2 linked regions of the Homo sapiens genome follow. The protein of the gene in region 1 interacts with the protein of each later gene in a pairwise test. Each region holds a gene or a part of one and is shown on either strand. Other genes may lie near its edges.

Region 1 (7,364 bases):
TGTAATTTCCTGTTTCTGTTTCTTTAAAGGAAACAATAATTTAAAGCCACCTGCAAAGGCATGAAGGCATAATCCTGGGCAAAAGTGGATTTGTTTCAACTTATTTTCTCAATCTTCTATGGGATCATCTCACTCTTAGCTAATTCTACGCAATGCTTGCCTTTATTGCATCTTTCCAAAGAATTGGATGTTGGTTTCCTAAGGACAGCTCTCTTTTGCACTCATCTGTTTACAGATATATATATTTAATCAAAAATATTTAACAACTGCAATTGCCATGAGGACATTTGGGAGCAAACAAAATTTTATTTATTTATTTAGAGACAGGGTCTCACTATGGGAGCAAACAAAGTCTTCTTTATTTATTTAGAGACAGCATCTAGCTATGTTGTCCAGGCTGGTCTCAAACTCCGGAGCTCAAGTGAGCCTCCTGCCTCCACCTCCGAAAGTGCTGGGATTACAAGCCTGAATCACTGCTCCTGGCCAGAATCTTTTTTTTTTTTTTCAGTTAATTTAGAAAGTTTATTTTGCCAAGGTTGAGGATGCCAACCCGTGACACAGCCTCAGGAGGACCTGAGGACATGTGCCCAAGGCAGTCAGAGACAGTTTGGTTTTATACATTTTAGGGGACATGAGACATCAATCAACGTATGTAAGATGGACATTGGTTTGGTCTGGAAAGGCGGGACAACTCGAAGTGGGGAGGGGGCTTCCAAGTGGTAGGTATATAAGACACAAATGGTTGCATTATTTTGAATTTCTGATTAGCCTCTCTGAAGGGGGCAATCAGAAATGCATTTATCTCAGTGAGCAGAGGGGTGATTTTGAATAGAACGGGAGGCAGGTTTGCCCTGAGCAATTCCCCAGCTTGACTTTTCCCTTTAGCTGAGTGATTTTGGGGCCCCAAGATATTTTCCTTTCACATTTCCTCCCTTTTCTTTTTAAAAATATTTTAGACAAAGCATTTTAGAAGAAAATGAGTCTCTAGTCTCAGGTTTCATCTGATTTCTCTTGGCTAGGATGGTTTATTACTATAGGGGTAAGTCCGGAGTTATTAGGAAAGCTCATTTTTAGAAGGTTGTAAAGTCTCATGTCCTGTGAAGAGAAAATAGGGGGAGGAAGGGAGAACACAACAAACAAAAGAACAATCCTGGAAAATCAAGATACAGGCCAGAGTATTCCGAAGTTCACACATCAGCAGATAGGTATGAAAGTGGCTTACGTCTGTAAATATGTAATTATTTTTTTCTGAGGTTTAAGTTGTCTAGCTCCAGTTTGCAGGGCTTTATAAAAGCACAACTTAGTTTTCAGTGATTCCAAATTAGGGAAAATGGGGGGAAAAGAAGGAAAAAATTTAAAATATTATTTTGGAGACTTGTAGCCAAGAAAAATTAGAATTCAGTCCAAACTATAGAAAATAATAAAAATTGAAAAACATTAGGCAAGACTAGAATGCAACAACAGGTGTACTATAGTTTTTGAAGCATAATCTTTCTCCAGTTTCCCATTTTTACTAAAGATGAATCATGGTAAGGGAGGAGACCACCCCTCATATTGTCTTATGCCTAATTTCTGCCTCCAAAGAAAGAAGATGTAAAAACTAAAAGGCAGAAATGAAATCCACAAGCAGGTAGCCTGGTGCCACACCCTGGGCCTGGTAGTTAAAGATCGACTCCTGACCTAATAGGTTATTTGCATAAAAAAGGCACTGTGAAGATCCCTGTCCTATTCTGTTCTGTTCTAATTACTGGTGTATGCAACCCCCAGTCATGTACCCCCTGCTTGCTCAATCCATCACGACCCTCTCACATGGACCCCCTTAGAGTTGTGAGCCCTTAAAAGGGACAAGAATCGCTCACTCGGGGAGCTCAGCTCTTGAGACAGGGGTCTTGCCCATGCTCCCGGCCGAATAAACCCCTTCCTTCTTTAACTCGGTGTCTGAGGGGTTTTTGTCTGCAGCTCTTCCTGCTACAATGGTATGACTGGTTTGCTTTATCATACTTGGCCTAATTTTTTGCATACAGTGCAGCAAGAATCTTCAACTAGTAAATGAAGTGAGTATTGCAAAGACAGCACCCCACCCTCATGGTGACATTTAGTCTTAGGCCAAAGTCAACATCTTATACAGTAGGAGTGGAGAGTGTCAACTCATGAATAATCTGGTTAAGAGGTTAAGGGTTTGTAAGAAAGATAGTTGGCATTTACAAAATATTTCATCCAACAAAAACAGGAAACACATTCTTCTCAAACTCACACAGAACATTCACCAAGACATATTATGTTCTGGGCTAGAAAACACACTTTAACAAATTTCAACAGAGATATGTTATGCAAAGCATGCCCTTTACTACAATGGAATTAAAAAAGAAACCCACAAAAGAAAGATAGCTGGAAAATTCCAAAATATATGGAGATTAAAGAACACACCTCTAAATAACACATGGGGCAAGGAAGAAGTCTCAAGAGAAATTTTAAAATATTTTGGGCCAGGCTCAGTGGCTTACGCCTATAATCCTAGCACTTTGGGAGGCTGAGGCAGATGGATCGCTTGAGCCCAGGAGTTCGAGACCAGACTGGGCCACATGCAGAAACCCCATCTCTACAAAAAATACAAAAATTAGCCAGGCATGGTGGCATGTACCTGTAGTCCCAGCTACTTGGGAGGCTGAGGTGGGAGGATCACCTGAGCCCAGGAGGTCAAGGCTGCAGTGAGCTAAGATTGTGCCACTGCACCCCAGCCTGGGCAACAGAGTGAGACCCTGTCTCAACAAAATAAATAAATATATTTTGAATTAAATTAAAATGAAAAAACAGCCTATCAAAAAGTGTGGGATGTAGTGAAAGTAGTGTTTAGAGGGAAAGTTATAGCATTGAATGCATATATTAGGAGAAGAAAGATCTAACTCAGAGAGGGATGAACAGGTGAGGCATAGGGGATTTTAAGGTAGTGAAACTCTTGCAGGGCAGGGGAGCCCCAAAACTGGGACACCGTCCGGGAAGGCTCTTGGCTTCGTCCAGGAAGGAATTCAAGGGTGAGCTAGAGGAGGAAGAAAAAGGTTTATTGAGGCAGCAGGGTTACAGTTCTGTGACTGTCCCTGCAGAGCAGGGCCACCCCATAGGCAGTGCCTGGAGAGCAGCAGCTCAGGGCACTTCTATAGTCACATTCATACCCACTTTTAAATACGTGCAAATTAAGGGCAGGTTATTCAGAAATTTCTAGAAGAAGGGTGGTAACTGGGTCATTGCCAGGGAATGAGTAAACTGTTCATGGTGCTGGTGCTCATGCCAGCCAGTCTTCAATCTGGCCCTGAGTCAAGCCCCACCTCCTATCTCAAAACTATTCTGCATGGTGCTGTAATGGTGGATACATGACATGTTATGTTTGGCAAAATCCATAGAACTGTAGGACACAAGAGTGAACCTTAATGTAAACCTTAATGTAAATGGACTTTTGTTAATTATGATGTATTAATATCAATTCATCAATTGTAACAAATGTATCACAGTACTGTTAATAATAGAGGAACTTATTGGCAGGAGAGAGAGCTTATGGAACTCTCTGCACATTCAGCTCAATATTTCTGTAAGCCTAAAACTGCTGTGAGAAATAAAATCCAACCTGGGCAACATAGCAAGACCTTGTCTCTACAAAAAATAAAAAATGAGCTGGGTGCAGTAACGCATGCCTGTAGTCCCAGGTATTCAGGAGGCTGGGGCAGGAGGATCCCTTGAACCCAGGAAGTTGAGGTTGCACGAGTCATGATCATGCCCCTGCACTCCAGCCTGGATAACAAAGCAAGATCCTGTCTCCAAAAAATAATAAAATAAAATAAAAATCTACTAATTGAAAGGGAAAAAAGCATAGTATAATACCATTCTTAACAAAAAGAAAAGAGACCTGTGTTTGTGTGTGTGTTAACATTTGAAAAAAATCTGGAAAGCTCTATATCAAAACGTTTATAGAGGCAATTTTGTAGTGTTAGAATCATAGATGATCTTTCCACTTCCTGGTTTTTCTGACTTTTTTTCTTTTTGCAGTGGGCATGTATTGCTGGAAAATACCACAGACAACTGTGAAAGGATTTCATCAACAACAAAAAAAAGATAAAGAAGGAAACACAAAATCTGTTAAATAAGATTTATGTTGGCTGGAGGTTAAAATGCATTTCCAGAGCAGAGTTCAGAGAAAGGCTGGGCTGCTTGTTGCTGGCTAAAGGACAAAGGGTAAGTTTCAGGAAGCAGAAGAGTGAGCAGATGAAATTCAGCACTGGGATCAGGGGAGTGTCTGATTTGCAAAAGGAAAGTGCAAAGACAGCTCCTCCCTTCTGAGGAAACGAAACCAACAGCAGTCCAAGCTCAGTCAGCAGAAGAGATAAAAGCAAACAGGTCTGGGAGGCAGTTCTGTTGCCACTCTCTCTCCTGTCAATGATGGATCTCAGAAATACCCCAGCCAAATCTCTGGACAAGTTCATTGAAGACTATCTCTTGCCAGACACGTGTTTCCGCATGCAAATCAACCATGCCATTGACATCATCTGTGGGTTCCTGAAGGAAAGGTGCTTCCGAGGTAGCTCCTACCCTGTGTGTGTGTCCAAGGTGGTAAAGGTGAGTCCAGGCCTGCCTGGCCAGGGGAGGGGTGGCTGAATGTGCAAGAGTTGAGATTGAGAATGAGAGAGAGAGAGAGAGAGAAGCAAAAACCTAGAACCCAGGGTGCAAATGTGAGTACAGAGAGCTGAGATCTTCTGGGATGGTGGTTTCTTATTTATCCACACAGCATGTTAAAATAGATTCTGGGGTGAAATCCTACATCCCTATTATTAACAAGTGACCCTCCCCCCTACTTCCCGCTGAAGTTTATGAACCACTGTCCTGGGCGATGCCCATTTCAGAAATAGGGAACTGAATCCCAGCTCTGGTAAACAGTTTGCTAATTCGTGGCCAGGCTAGGGGCTCACCATTTCTGCAGTGAAGAATCATATGTTTTGAAAGCAAATAGCACCTGCTGGCTGCAAGACCTTGAGCAAGTCACTTAACTACTCTGTGTTCCAATTTCCTCAGCCATAATCCCCAATACTGTTGCAGTCTTGCCAGTGCACCTTAATGTAGCAGCTTCTCACTGAATTAGTACCCAAGGTTCTTTGTCCTGCATCCAAGAAAATTAAGGAACATGGACACAAACGTGAGCTTGGAGCAAAAGTTCAGTAAGCAAAAGAAGAAAGCTGTCTCCACTGTGGAGAGGGAAGTCTGAGTGGATTGCCAGATTGCAGCTGAATGCAAAAAACTTTTATAAGAAACCACTCTCCTCCCTGTAACTGTTTGAGAAACTTTTTATCAGTAAAGCTGTGCAACTTCCCTTACCTTATGCAGCTGTGGGTATATCTCTAGGCAAGCATAAAGCGCTGCTTCTCTTGTATGTATAACTGTGGATTTGTTTTAGGTAAGTCCCACTCCCTGCGCCAGTTTCAGGCAGGCCGCTCCTCCAGGGCCCAGCCTTGACCATTTACCTAACTGATTTTTCCTCTACTTTCCCTCAATACCTCATAGGGCCGTGTAGATTAAGTAAAATAGTAAGTGTGAACCACCCAGCATAAGCTAGTCCTGGGCATCGTAAAGGACAATGGGAAAAGAACACAGATCCTGGAAGAAGGCCCCCAGGTTTGAATTGTATTTGCCACCTACTAGCTGGGTGATGGGGCTGATATATTATCTCACTGAGCATCCATTTTCCCATCTGTAAAATGGGAACTAATGATAATGGCATCCAAATCATAGCATCATTGTGAGCATTATAGGAGTTTAAGACATGCAATGCCTTCAGAACAGTGGCTAGTGCTCCATAATGTTAGTGATTGCTCCTGTCATTTTATTTAGGGAGGTTTGCCTCACTAAGCATCAATTATTATTTTTGTCGTCTTTTTCAGGGTGGCTCCTCAGGCAAGGGCACCACCCTCAGAGGCCGATCTGACGCTGACCTGGTTGTCTTCCTCAGTCCTCTCACCACTTTTCAGGATCAGTTAAATCGCCGGGGAGAGTTCATCCAGGAAATTAGGAGACAGCTGGAAGCCTGTCAAAGAGAGAGAGCATTTTCCGTGAAGTTTGAGGTCCAGGCTCCACGCTGGGGCAACCCCCGTGCGCTCAGCTTCGTACTGAGTTCGCTCCAGCTCGGGGAGGGGGTGGAGTTCGATGTGCTGCCTGCCTTTGATGCCCTGGGTGAGAGCTCCCAGCTTCTTTTTCTCCCTCTTCCCATTTCTGAGCAGAAATCTCCCACAGTTTGAGAGCTTTTTGCCCCAACAGGGCATCTCTCTAAAGCAGGGTGGGAGGAGATCTTAGGATCTGTCCCGGGGCAAGAATGAATACGGTCATGATCTATCACAGGAGAGACATTAAACAGCAAATTGGCATAATGTGGGGACAAAGACATTTCTTACAGAACATCTGCAAGGCTTACTGGTTCTGTTTAAGGCAAAATGTGTGAATTTTATCTTTCTAAAATCAGGCAGCAAAGATGTGGCTTAAAGTTCATGTTACTCTCATCTTTGTCCCAACATGAGATCTCATCAAACGTATGCAGCACGTTGGGAGATAGATATTTATAATTTGCAGGAACATTTGGACAGGAAGTGTAACCTCTCAGAGGCTCCCTTGCCACATCAGGAGAATTGGTAAAACCACACTACCTGTATCATATCATTATTTTAAGTGATAAATGATCATCTACATTCAGCTCTGATGAGTAATAGGTGTTCAAAAATAGGAACTTCCAGCCAAGTGTGGTGGCTCATGCTTGTAATTCCAACACTTTTGGAGGCTGAGGCAGGAGGGTCGCTTGAGCCCAGGAGTTCAAGACCAGCCTGGGCAGCAAAGTGAAACCTCATCTCTACTAAAAATTTTAAAACATTAGCCAAGTGTGGTGGTACATGCCTGTGGTCGCAGTTATTCAGGACGCTGAGACTGAACGATCACATGAGGCCAGCCAAGGATTCGAGGTGTCAGTGAGCCACGAATGTACCACTGCACTCCATCCTAGGCACAGAGCAAGAGCAAGACCCTGTCTCAATCAATCAGTCAATCAGTCAAAACTATGAATTTCCCAGCTGTATATGAAGGCACCTCAAAACACCACAGTGAACTCACAGAGGGACACGGAATAGTTTAGATTTTAATTTTTTGAGGGAAATGCGATGACATCTGTCACACACCGCACAAACGGCTACTATTAAACTGAACTTACTGATTAGTGGCTACTAATTAATAGTTGGTCATTAAGCAGTAATTAGTGATTAATTATCAAGTAATTAGGACTTAATTAAAGGAACTGTCACAGTTTCCTTTAGTCCTAGGGCAGCCATGAAAAAAAAAATGCT
Region 2 (7,025 bases), on another chromosome or scaffold:
GGTCTTCAGAATGAAAGAGTCAATTGAATGTCACACAGATGGGGACGGGAAAAAGACATGAAACACAACTAGATGCCTATTGCTGATACTGTGGAATTCCAATGACGAAAAAAATACCCAAAGCTTCTAGGGGTCATCAACAAGAATCAGACTGGTAAGAGACTGCTCGTCAGCAAACTGCTAGAAAATCATGCAGCAATGCCTGCAAAGTTATGAGGAAACATGGTTTTTGATCCTATACTTATACAAATCATGAATTAAGTATGAGGTTAAAATCAAGACATTTTTGGAATGTAAGAATTCAGAAATAAGACAGCCAGATGATAAATGGAACCATTAGCAAGTTTACTAATAAGAAAGAACTGAAAGTTCTCTACTTACCCAATCTTTCTGGTTGAGTTTAGCTGCTTCATTATATACTTCAATGGCAGCTTTATGTTTTCCCAAAAGAAATCTGTAAAAGATATATTTTCCATAATTATTACCTCAAAATTCTTAGAAGACTAACCCTACTAGTCCCACATTTTAATCATATTTCATCCAGCAGAGAATTCTAGAAGCCTTTTCTCTATGAGGTGGTTGTGCTGGTTTGGTCAGTGAAGCTGCTATACACTAACAGCAGAAGCTCTCTTAGTAGGGATTGCACTGGCAGCTGTTCCAAGGCCTTGGTCTCATTCTATACCAATTTTAGTGAGAGTCTTGTGGAATTTTTCTTCTACAATGTACTATAAATGCAGACCAAAAAAGAAATAAGCCTAATGATATACCATGTTAAGCAGTAACTACCATCATTTATCATCACCCATTAGGGACACATCCTTTCCTTCCAAGACTAAGTCTCTTTCCTTGATATTGGATCCTGAGTTTAGAGAGAAACAGGGAAAACCAAGCTCTATGCAAAAACAACACAGGTATGAATGGCAATGTGGCTAAGAAAGGGGAGATAGGAACTCCATGGAACAAAGGACTGAAAAGGGAGTACCTAGTAGTTTATAAACACTTGAGATTCTTTCCATCTAGGAATCTTTAGGACATTCACTCAACAAATAGAGATGCTCCTCAACTTATGATGGGGTTACATCCCAGTAAACCCATTGTAAATTGAAAACACTGTAATTCAAAAATGCATGTAATACATCTACTCTACCAGACATCATAGATAGCCTAGCCTATCTTAAGCATGCTCAGAACACTTACTCTGTTCCATGGAGTTCCTATCTCCACTTTCTTAACTACATTTGCTGACAGTTAGGCAAAACCATCTAACACAATGCCAACTTTATAATAAAATGCTGAATATCTCATGTAATTTACTGAATACTATACTGAAAATGAAAAACGGAATGGCTGTATGGATACTTGAAGTACAGTTTCTACTGAATACATAACAATTTTACATCATTGTAAAGTTGAAAAATTATGTAAGTTGAACCATCAGAAGTCAGGAACTCTCTGTCCTTACTAAAAACTTACTGTGTGACAAATACTAAGTGTTAGAAGAGTAGATGAGAAAAATTCCAAGGATTGCCAATAAGTTTAGAAGACTTAGGGTACAAGGTGTCTCTATTTACATGATAAACAATATTGGTCCCCCATCAAACTAGAATGCACAGTGTTTAAAATGCTTAGTTCCTTAACACTAGTTATCTCATTTTCTCAAATTTCAAACTTAATCCATGCTCTTCAGAGTGAATCCCACTGTACCTATTAAACCATTCCCCCACTTGTGTATCAGGCTGATGCAGCTGCCAGCAGCAGGCTGGACCTAGGAATGCATTTTACACTGTTCTCTGTGAGTGCCCTAGGGCCTCCAGGTTGCCAATACTCACAAAGATCTGGCCACCTGCTTGAGGTTATCAGCACTCTGAGGACTAAGAACTGCACATGTCTGGAAGAGTTCTAGGGATTCTTGGATATTTCCTTCTAGGCGAAATATCAATGCTGCCAAGAAACAGAAAATACAAAAAAAAGTAAAACCATGTTCTGGGAAGAATGGAGCCTGGGGTCAGAAAAATTGGAGAAGAGAAAACTGGGAAACCACATCAAGTAAATCCTTTGGACAACTGTATCCTTAAAACAATCAGATATGGCTTTGGACAGGCTGAAACAACAACCAAAACTGCTGACAAGCTCAACTGTCTTTTAGCAAGGTAGCTCAAACCTACCTACTTCTCTCTCTACTCCCAGGATCCATCACATAGATAATCAGTTCCTTTGCAAATTATCACACAAACTCTTCACATTAACAACATTTTGGGGCTTCCCCATCAGATGCTTCATTTATCATAATTTACTTCCAACTGATAGTTTTCAGAGCGAACCCCCAAATGGGGCAAATGGAATCAATACCTCAAATTCAACATGGAGATTCTGGCAAAGGATAAAGTAACATTTAAGACTTCAGTTGTCAGTGTAACAACCAATTAGAACCAGAGGTTTTTCCTAGGCCTATGTTTCCAGAAGAATTTATCAGGCACTGAAAGTCTGATACTTGTGACACTGGGAATAAGAGCATTTTTTGCCATGATGTCCTAAATTTGTCAATATCTTAACAATTATGTCAGAAAATTATATGTTAATCTGAAGACTACAAATGCAATGAATGGTAAACAAAACCATTTATTTACACCCAAGAGTCAAAAAGAAAGTTCCTGGAAAAACTAAGAATGCTACTTATGCCACTAAAGAGGAAAATTTAAGTCAGTGGGCCAGGTGCAGTGGTTCATGCCTGTAATCCCAGCACTTTGGTAGGCCAAGGCAGGTGGATCACCTGAGGTCAGGAGTTCGAGACCAGCCTGGCCAATATGGCAAAACCTTGTCTCTACTAAAAATACAAAAACTAGCTGGACATGGTGGCATGTGCCTGTAATCCCAGCTAATAGGGGGGCTGAGGCAGGAGGATCGCTTGAACCTGGAAGGCAGAGGTTGCAGTGAGCTGGGATCGCACCACTGCACTCCAGCCTGGGCAACAGAGCAAGACTCTGTCTCAAAAAAAAAAAAAAAAAAAAAAAGTAAGTGAGTGGTCCTTATCTTTGGTTTCTAATGAGCTGAATTTATGCTCTGCTTTATCTTGTTTATTTCCAGGCTTCTTCCCCTCATCCTGATTCACCTTACAGAAATCCTCAAGCTCTTCTTCATCTCTTTTAGCTTGATTACAAGCAATCCTTCCAAAAGCATCTTTTGGCCCTGAAATCACTGCATTAGGCAGGAATCCTAAGCATCCATTCCAAAAAACACTAGCCAGAAACTAAAAAATGGGTAATCATAGCAATTTTTTAACATTACTAGTCATTTCTGAAGTCAAATCCAACACAGTAATTATATTCAGATTCCATAAAAAGATTAATACTGAATAAAACCTTTCTGGAACATTTAAACTCATGCACCTGTAATGACATTTTGGTCGACAGCTGTATAAATGATGATGATCACTTAAGATTATAATGAAGAGGAAAAATTCCTATTGCCCAGTGACGTCATAGCAATCAAAACAGTGCAATGCATTACTTACCTATCTGTAGTGATGCTGGTATAAACAAACCTACTGTGCTGCCAGTCACATAGAAGTACAGCATATACAATTACATATATATAGAACTTAATACTTGATAATAAATGACTACATTACTGGTTTATGTATTTACTACGCTATACATTTTAATCTTTATTTTAGAGTGTACTCCTTCCACTTACTAAAAAAAAGAATAACTGCCTCAGGCAGATCCTTCAGGAGGTATTCCAGAAGGTATTCCTATTGTTATAGGAGATGACAGCTCCATGTATGTTATTGCCACTGAAGACCTTCCATAAGGAGGTGGAAGACAGTGATATTTATAATCTTGACTCAGTGTAGGCCTAGACCAGTGCGTGCGTGCGTGTGCGTGTGTGTGTGTGTGTGTGTGTGTGTGTGTGTGTGTCACAAAGACCTTAGATGGGTCACAAAGCTCTGAATGCCAAAAAAGACAGCAAGGACACATTCCACATGTTAGTACCACCACTGTAGTAGTGTGTGTATCGTAGTTTTTAACAAAAAAGTTTAAAAGTAAAAAAATAAAAAGTTTTAAGAATAGCATAAAGGGCCAGGTGTCGTAGCTCATGCCTATAATCCCAGCACTTTGAGAGGCTGAGGCAGGAGAACTGCTTGAGCCCAGGAGTTCAAGACCAGCCTGGGCAACAAAGTGAGACTCTGTCTCTCTACCAAAAAAAAAAAAGAAAGAAAAAGAAAAAAGCTTATAGAATAAGGACCTAAAGAAACTATTTTTGTACAAATGTACAATGTTGTTGTGTGTTTTAAGTATTACCCCAAAAGAGCCAAAAAGTTTTAAAGTTTATAAAGTAAAAAGTTATAGTAAGCTAAAGTTAATTTATCATTGTAGAAAAAATATTTTTAAATAAATTTAGTGTAGGCTAAGTGTACAGTGTTTATAAAGTCTACATTAGTATACAACATAAAGTCTACATTAGTATACAATAATGTCCTAGACCTTCACATTCACTCACCACTAACTCACCCAGAGCAACTTCCAGTCCATCCATGGTAAGTACTCTATACAGGTATACTATTTTTTATCTTTTATACCATATTTTTACAGTACCTTTTCTATGTTTAGATACACTTACCACTGTTTTACAACTGCCTACAGTATTCGGTATAACACCTGCTCATACAGGTTTGTAGCCTGGGAGCAACAGACTATATCATGTGTATAGTACACTATATCATCCATCTATGTTTGTGTAAGTACACTCCATGTAATGTTCACACAATGACAAAATTGCCTAACAACACATTTCTTAGAACATATCTCCATTGTTAAGTGGTGCATGACTGTACTTGAACTTGTTTCTTCAATTGCCTGATCTTTTTCAAGAACCTAGGAAAAGTGTATTTCTCTAGCAAGAAGACAAGAAGTATGTGTCTTACCTTGGACATAGATAGCATATTCACACAATCCCTGAGTCTCTTGAAGCTGTTCTTTGATAACAGCCTGAAAGAGGGAGAAAAATGCTTCTGAGCAGTGGTTAAGTTTCTTCAGGTGTCTTTAAGAAAAAGTGGACATGGACAGGCCAGGTGCGGTGGCTCATGCTTGTAATCCCAAAACTTTGGGAGACCAAGGCAGGCAGATTATGAGGTCAGGAGTTCAAGATCAGCCTAACCAATATGGTGAAACCCCATCTCTACTAAAAATACAAAAATTAGCCGGGCAGTAGTGGTGCGTGTCTGTAATCCCAGCTACTCAGGAGGCTGAGGAAGGAGAATCGCTTGAACCCAGGAGGCGGAGGTTGCAGTGAGCCAAGATAGCGCCACTGCACTCCAGCCTGGGCAACAGAGTGAGACTCTGTCTGAAAAAAAAAAGAAAACAAATAGTAATGAAAAAGCAGACGTGGACAAGAATCATATGTAAAAAAACCTAGAGTATTAATAATGCCTAGTAAAGTATTAGTTCATTCAGTTTCTTAAAATTTCAACTCCCTTGTTGTGATTACTTCTTCTAGAACAGGGATTTGCAAACTACAGGGCTTACAGGCCCTGTATATTTTTGTACAGCTCTCAAGCTAACAGTGGTTTTTTTATTTCTAAAGGGTTATAAAAAATAAGATAACAAATATGATGTAGAGACTGTATGTGGCCTACAAACCCTAAAATATTGTTGGCCCATTACAGAAAAAGTTTGCCAACCCCTGTCTAAAATCTAACTAGGCAAGCTAAGAAAAGTGTGATAAGATTTCCAAGTATTATCACAGATGAAAAAGAAAGAGAACCTTTCAAGATTCATACTGGTGGCCAGGCGCGGTGGCTCACGCATGTAATCCCAGCACTTTGGGTGGCCGAAGCGGGCAGATCACCTGAGGTCGGGAGTTTGAGACCAGCCTGACCAACATGGAAAAACCCCATCTCTACTAAAAACACAAAAAATTAGCCAGGCGTGGTGGCACATGCCTGTAATCCCAGCTACTCAGGAGGCTGAGGCAGGACAATCGCTTGAACCCAGGAGGCGGAGGTTGTGGTGAGCCGAGGTCACGCCATTGCACTCCACCCTTGGCGACAAGAGCAAAACTCCATCTCAAAAAAAAAAAGATTCATACTGGTATCTGCCTTCGGATCAGCGGTGTCAAAAAAAACTGGTATGGGCCGGGTGCGGTGGCTCACGCCTGTAATCCCAGCACTTTGGGAGGCTGAGGCAGGTGGATTACGAGGTCAGCAGTTTGAGACCAGCCTGACCAACATGGTGAAACTCCACCTCTACTAGAAATACAAAAAAAAAAAAAAAAATTAGCTGGGCATGGTGGCGGGCACCTGTAATCCCAGCGACTTGGGAGGCTGAGGCAGGAGAATTGCTTGAAACTGGAAAGCGGGGGTTGCAGTGAGCCGAGATTGCGCCACTGCACTCTAGCCTGGGCAATAAGAGCAAAACTCCACTTAAAAAAAGAAAAAAAAAAACTGGTATGAATCTTTGTCATACCAGTATGAATTAGTTCTGTGCATTGCCATAGGTATAAATGCCATGGGTATAAATTAAAAACCTTAGATGGGTCACAAAGCTCTGGATACCAAAAAAGATGACACCAAGGATACATTCTGCATGTTAGTACTACCACTGTCTGCCTGCAAGTTTGTAACACATATGGTATGTCACCAAAGATACAGAGAAAGGGAAATACAAATGGTTTTTAAATATACACATGATGATCAACCTTGCAGTAAGAGAGAAATTAAAAAATAAAACTCAGGGCTGGGCACGGTGGCTCACGCCTGTAATCCCAGCACTTTGGGAGGCCAAGGCGGGCAGATCACAAGGTCAGGAGTTCGAGACCAGCCTGGCCAATATGGTGAAACCCCATCTCTACTAAAAATACAAAAAATTAGCTGGGCATGGTGACACTCATCTGTAGTCCCATCTACTGGGGAGGCTGAGGCAGAAGAATTGCTTGAACCTGGGAGACAAAGGCTGCAATGAGCCAAGATCATGCCACTGCACTCCAGCCTAGGTGACAGTGAGACTCCATCTCAAAAAAAAAAAAAA

What was found.
Region 2: the proteins of OAS1 (region 1) and BBS4 interact in binary tests that used the Homo sapiens proteins (3 or more experiments, as listed by UniProt).

Annotation. Positions count from the first base shown.
Region 1 is NC_000012.12:112,902,615-112,909,978, forward strand, and holds the start of OAS1 (2'-5'-oligoadenylate synthase 1), read left to right. Parts: upstream 1-4,347; 5' UTR 4,348-4,425; coding exon 4,426-4,605; intron 4,606-5,921; coding exon 5,922-6,210; intron 6,211-7,364.
Region 2 is NC_000015.10:72,710,207-72,717,231, reverse strand, and holds part of BBS4 (BBSome complex member BBS4), read right to left. Parts: intron 4,989-7,025; coding exon 4,925-4,988; intron 1,942-4,924; coding exon 1,830-1,941; intron 455-1,829; coding exon 382-454; intron 1-381.